2 linked regions of the Homo sapiens genome follow. The protein of the gene in region 1 purifies or fractionates together with the protein of each later gene. This does not show direct contact. Each region holds a gene or a part of one and is shown in the gene's direction. Other genes may lie near its edges.

The links. The genes of interacting proteins can lie anywhere in the genome.
Region 2: the proteins of NRBF2 (region 1) and PAXBP1 purify together in Homo sapiens (affinity purification with mass spectrometry; one large-scale study listed by BioGRID and IntAct). This does not show direct contact.

The regions. Positions count from the first base shown.
Region 1 is NC_000010.11:63,150,300-63,153,055, forward strand, and holds part of NRBF2 (nuclear receptor-binding factor 2), read left to right. Parts: exon of another isoform or gene 1-57; intron 58-1,850; coding exon 1,851-1,891; intron 1,892-2,756. UniProt on the Homo sapiens protein: May modulate transcriptional activation by target nuclear receptors. Can act as transcriptional activator (in vitro). Involved in starvation-induced autophagy probably by its association with PI3K complex I (PI3KC3-C1).
Region 2 is NC_000021.9:32,737,099-32,740,756, reverse strand, and holds part of PAXBP1 (PAX3- and PAX7-binding protein 1), read left to right. Parts: intron 1-2,415; exon of another isoform or gene 2,416-2,437; coding exon 2,438-2,584; intron 2,585-3,348; coding exon 3,349-3,503; intron 3,504-3,658. UniProt on the Homo sapiens protein: Adapter protein linking the transcription factors PAX3 and PAX7 to the histone methylation machinery and involved in myogenesis.

The DNA.
Region 1 (2,756 bases):
CTGTACAGACATACTACAGGAAAAAAAGACAAGGGTTGTGGGAAGGATGTAATTATGGTAAGCATAGCTGGAGCAAAGACTGTATAACCAACTCTGTTTTTTCTTTCCTTTTTTTTTTTTAAATTCTTTTTAAATTGATACAGGGTCCCGCTATGTTACCCAGTCTAGTCTTGAACTCCTGGGCTCAGGCAGTCCTCCTGTTTGGCCTCCCAAAGTGCTAGCCACTGCGCCTGGCTCCAACTCTTCTTTTTCTTGGAAAGGGAGCATCTAATTCAGCAGTCCCAACCTTTTTGCTGCCAGGGACTGGTTTTGTGGAAGTCAATTTTCCATAGACCTGGGGTCAGGAAAATGGTTTTTGGATGATTCAAGCACATTACATTTATTGTACACTTTATATTTTACAATGTAATAATAGAAATAAATAATTATACAACTCAACATAATGTAGAATCAGTGGGAGCCCTGAGCTTGTTTTCCTGCAGCTAGACAGTCTCATCTAGGGGTGATGGGAGACAGCGACAGATCATCAGGTATTAGATTATCATAAGGAGAGTGCAACCTAGATCCCTTGCTTGTGCAGTTTGCAGTAGGGTTTGTGCTATGAGAAGCTAATGCCGCTGCTGATCTGATGGGAGGCAGAACTCAGGCGGTAATGCAAGCAATGGGGAGTGGCTGTAAATACAGATGAAACTTCACTGGCTTGCCTGCTGCTCACTTCCTGCTGTCTGTGTGGCCCAGTTCCTAACAAGACATAGACCAGTACCGGCCTGGGGGTTTGGGACCCCTGATATAATTGTATCTTAAAGACTGTGGTAGAACCTAGCAGGCAAGAACTCTTAAGTTATGACATCAAAGCATTAAATTATTTGGATTAAGACTGGACAGAAAGCAATGCCTCGTAGTATCTGCAAAAGGGCAAAAGAGGAACTTAATGTAGGTATGAGAGATGCCAAAAATGTTTATAACAAGCAAGATAAAAATGGAGATTCATTATGGACAATTCATTGATAATAGAGAACTTATTTATACCTAACCTTGTTCCCGAAAGGTTATAAAATGTCTTACAGATGAATGTACAATAAAATATCGAATGTAATTAAAGATACATAGATAAGGACATCCATAGAGAAAATGAGAAAGGACTAGTAGTGTAGTTCACAAAATGTACCATTAGTTCTTGCATATTTTTTTAAGAACTTGACTTAAGTTTTCTAGCAGTCATCCTAAAGAGGAAAGATAATAATTTTTACATTGGCTATTAAAATTCAAACAAATAGTCACCGAGGATCTAAGATCAGAGAGAAGTTTATTGAAGGTCTTCATAAATGACATTATACTGTCCTCAGTAACTTCCTCGCAGTAAATATGTCAACAAGTTCTTAGGGCTTTTAACCATAAGGCTGATGGTTTAACTCAGAGACAATTCATTAAAAGTGATTCTATAGGAGTCCAAAATGATAGATTCCAGGTATTCAGACGGATAAAAAGTCATTGATAATCTCATGATATTTTTGTGAGTATGATGAGTAATAGGGTTTGGATAGGTTCTTGTTTGATTTTTATCTTTCCTAAACCTATTTTTCTGATTAGACCATCTTCAGTTTCTGAATTATAAAATCTGTAGGAGTTTTAAATAACAAAACCTTCAAGATAGGGTAGGGAATATTTTCATTTTATTGCCACTGACATCCTTTTGGGGGAAGTTAAGAATTCTTTTAAAAAATCCCCAATTGTATCAGAGTTATCAGACCAGTTCTCTTTGTCATATGAAGATTATTAAAACTCTTCCTTTTACCTGTTAATTACAAAATGAAGACACATATTAACATGCCTATTTTTTCTCTTAACAGCATATCTTTCTGAAGCCATGAAGCTGACACAGTCAGAGCAGGTGAGACATATTCCCAATATTTGCGACAAGGGTTAGAAAGGTTTTCTTGTGGAGGCTTGAATTGTGTGTAAAGCAAAGCATTGTGTCCCTCTCAAAATGCTATAGTCAAAAATATATAAAATGGGCAAGGGAAGAGCACTTCACAACGGAAATTAAAACTAAATGAACTGCAGTCGATGCCCCAGACATGGAATGCAGAAACTTCTTTTTTTCTAGTGGTTACTCACAGATCTCAGATTGCCAGCCAGATGTACCTTTTAGAGAGCCCTCTTCGGACCATTCCTAATCATTAGCTCTTATTTGATCATTAGCTTACAGTCAGTAAACAGGCCTGGCCAAGAGGAAACTAGTTGGACCACCCTTTGCTTGTCAAAGATAATTTAAATCTGACCAGTCTCCCACTTGTCTTTGCTTGAATTCTTAAGCAGTTCAGGCACTTTTAAATTTGTTTCACCAATTGCTTTAAATTGTCTTCTGTGTTTGGGGAGGCCCTGCCAAGTGTTTCAAGATACATTTATTCATAAGACTGGGCATGGTGGCCCATGCCTGTAATCCCAGCACTTTGGGAGGCCAAGGCAGGGGGATCACTTGAGCCCAGGAGTTCGAGACCAGCCTTGGCAACACAGTGAGACCCCATCTCTACAAAAACTTAAAAAATTAGCTGGGCGTGGTGGCACATGCCTGTAGTTCTAGCTACTTGGGAGGTTGAGGTGAGAGGATCACTGAACACCTGAGTCCAAGGCTGCAGTGAGCTATGACTGCGCCATTGCACTTCAGCCTCAGCAACAGGGACCCTGTCTCTAAAATAAATATATATAAAATATCTTTTTAAAAACTTTTTGTTATAAAAGTATTAGTTAAAGAG
Region 2 (3,658 bases), on another chromosome or scaffold:
ATGAAGTCCAGTTGATCTTTTTTTCCTGTTATGGATTGTGCTTTAGATGTCATATCTAAGAAATCTTTGCCTAATATGAAGCCACAAAGGTTTTCTCCTATCCTTTCTTCTAGAAGTTTCATAGTTTTAGGTTTTACATTTAGGTCTGTGACTCTTTTCAGGTTAATTTTTATTATAGGGTGTGAGGCCTGGATTAAGGTTTACTTGTTCCAGCACTATTTGTTGAAAAGGCGATAGCCTTTTCTGTGAACACCAAAAATTCCTTTGTCCTATGAACACCAAAAATTTGAGACAGGTCTCAGTTAATTTAGAAAGTTTATTTTGCCAAGATTGAGGACACACCTGTGACACAGCCTTAGGAAGTTCTGATGACATGTGCCCAAGGTGGTCGGGGCACAGCTTGGTTTTATACATTTTAGGGAGACACGAGACATCAATCAATATGTAAGAAATACATTAGTTCCATCCAGAAAGGTGGAGACAGCTCAAAGCAAGGCCCCCCCATTGGGGACTTCCAGGTCACATGTAGGTGAGAGAGGGATGGTTGCATTCTTTGGAGTTTCTGATAAGTTTTTCCAGAAGAGGCAATCAGAATATGCATCTATCTCTGTGAGCTGAGAGATGACTTTGAATAGAATGGGAGGCAGATTTGCCCTCAGCGGGGTCCCCAGCTTGAAGAGGCCCAAGATATTTCCCTTTCACAGTCCATTGAATTGCTTTTGTGCCTTTGTTGAAAACCAGTTAACTATATGTGTCATGGAAGGGTTTAAGGTAAGTAAACAAATTGCCTTTTTTTTTTTTTTTTTTTTTTTTTTTTTAAAGAGACGAGGTCTTGTGTTGCCTAGGCTGGTCTCAAACTCCTGAGCTCAAGTGGTCCTCCTTCCTTGGCCTCCCAAAGTACTGGGATTACAGGTATAAGCCACTGTGCCCAGCCATAAATTGCCTGGCTCAGCCTTCCGAGTAGCTGGGACTACAGGCGCCCACCACCACGCCCGGCTACTTTTTTGTATTTTTAGTAGAGACGGGGTTTCATCATGTTAGCCAGGATGGTCTCGATCTCCTGACCTCGTGATCTGCCCGCCTCAGCCTCCCAAAGTGCTGGGATTACAGGTGTGAGCCACCGCGCCCGGCCGTAACCACAGGTCTATAAATTACCATTTTTAAGATTACTCTGTCTGCTATGTGGAGATAATAGATTGAAGTAGGTATGGATAGTGATAGTGAAAATGGGAACTGGTATTTATTGTGTATTTTATGGGAACTAGTACTTACTGTGTGTTTACTATGTACCAAGCACTGTCCCGCACCTTTTACATAGATTATCTTGTTGAATCCTCAGAATGGCTCAATGAGGTACACGCTGTTTTTTCACTTTACTGATGGGGTAGTGAGGCACACAATAACCTGCACAAGGTCATTCCATTGGTAATTAGAGATGGGAATCAAACTCAGCCAGTCTGACTCTTGAGCTGCTCTTCTCAACTGGGCTTCTGTGGGAGACTTAATACCTAATGCCCTAAGGCCTCCATTGTCTATAATGAATTCTTCTTTTTCCCCTGCATCTGTAACAGTACTAGCTATGTATCATTCTTGGGAGAACTGAGTAAAGAGCCACACAAATCATTTTCTGTAGGTTTAGAACTCTTGCAGAGCCCTGCTTCAGAAAGGCTACTCAGTGCTCTTGCTCATAATCACTGGAGTAACTGCAGGGTTCTGAAGAGATTAAGGTGGGTCAGATTCGGAGGATGGCAGCAGGAACTGAGGGAAATGGACAGACTGGATGGTCGTGGAGACACACAACTTGAGAGAGAGGTCAGGAATGACCTCCAGACCTCTGCCGCAAGCAGCTGGTTGAATAGTGTTACCATTTACTAAGTTGAGAAACAACTGGGAAACTATAAGTTTTTATGGTGGGATGGGATGGGGCTTTCATTTTATGATGATAGCTTTCATTTTCTATATATTGATTGAGCTTGGGTAGCTTGAGATGCATAAGTGATATAACTTGGTTGTAGTTCATGATACATGGTAGCCATGCAGGGTTGTAGTCAGACTCTCCCATCTTTTGTGGGCAGCGCGGGGCGGGGTGGGGGTGTGCATAGAACCAGCTAGAGTGTAATTTTGAATGGAGGACACTTACCTAAGACTCAGCACTCCCTGATAGTACTGTCTGCAATGATGGAAAATGTTCTGTATCTGTGCTGACCAGTGCTGTAGCCACTAGCTACATGTGGCTGTTTCGATTTTGACTAATTAAAATTGAATATTCAAATGTAACCATTCTAGGAAATATCTGTACCTTTGAAAGTATTAATATTTCTTAGTACTTTGGCAAGACATGGTCTGCTGTATTTCATATGGTGTTTTACTATGTAACTTATTTACTTTGTACCTAATCTAATTGTTTCACATTACCTATTTTTTTTCTTCTTTCCAGCTGTTAGGCAATTTTCTTCAGTGGTATGGCATTTTCTCAAATAAAACTCTGCAAGAGTTATCAATAGATGGTTTATTAAATCGATATATTCTCATGGCTTTTCAGAATTCAGAATATGGAGATGACAGCATCAAAAAAGCCCAAAATGTGAGTTAAATGCATAGTACAGTTTTTAAAGCATATAATTTAAAATGAATTAAGTTTTTGTTTGTTTGAAGAGGGATTTGAGAATTTTATGAAACCCCTTTGATTACTGGACTTGCATGTAAGGTTGACAGTTTGCCTACCCAGGTAGTTCCAACCCCCTACAGCATTTTTTACATAAAAATGCATACTGTTATATATATATATATCCATCTATATCCATATTTTTATAGATATTAGTGAAAGTTTTGATATTTTTATAGGTATAAATAAAAGTTTTGATTTCAGAATAATAACCTTATTATCTTAACCTCAGTCTGGGCCAACTCGACTTCCCTTAGCAGCATGCATGGATGTCTATTCGTGGAATTATTGCAGGGGATGGGGGTGCTGTAATTTCATTTTTATACCACTCATTTTTACATCAAAAGCTGCTGGAAAAGGAAATTCAGTATATTTAGGCCATCCTAGAAGACTGGAAAATGAAGCAGTTGGTTGTCAGTTTTATGTTACTAATTTACTCAAATATTGGACAGATTATCTTTTGCTTTGAGTGCCTAACCCATTGGTTGGGGTAAAAATTTAGGTATATTGGTTTAGTTAATGTAGGAAGTCAGATTTAAAAGAATATTTCTTCAGAGTAATTGCTGTAGCTCAGAAGCACGTCTTCTGGTGAAATACATTTATACCCATTAACTAGACTTTGCTTTTAATACTTTAATTTATTCTGTCTTAACTATTTTATTTTACGTCTTTCTTCTCCACAGGTAATCAATTGTTTCCCCAAACAATGGTTCATGAATCTGAAAGGAGAAAGGACTATTTCTCAGTTAGAAAACTTTTGCCGATACCTTGTACACTTAGCGGATACAATTTATAGAAATAGTATCGGGTGTTCTGATGTGGAAAAAAGAAATGCAAGGTAATTTTGTAATTAATGAAATGGTAATCTAGAGTTGTTTAGTTGCCAGATTTAGTATTAAAATGTTTTAAGTAGAGATGTTTATATTTTAGTTTAAATTGTATGTTCACTTAGTATTATAAACCTACCAAAAATGCACATAATTTTTCATTTTA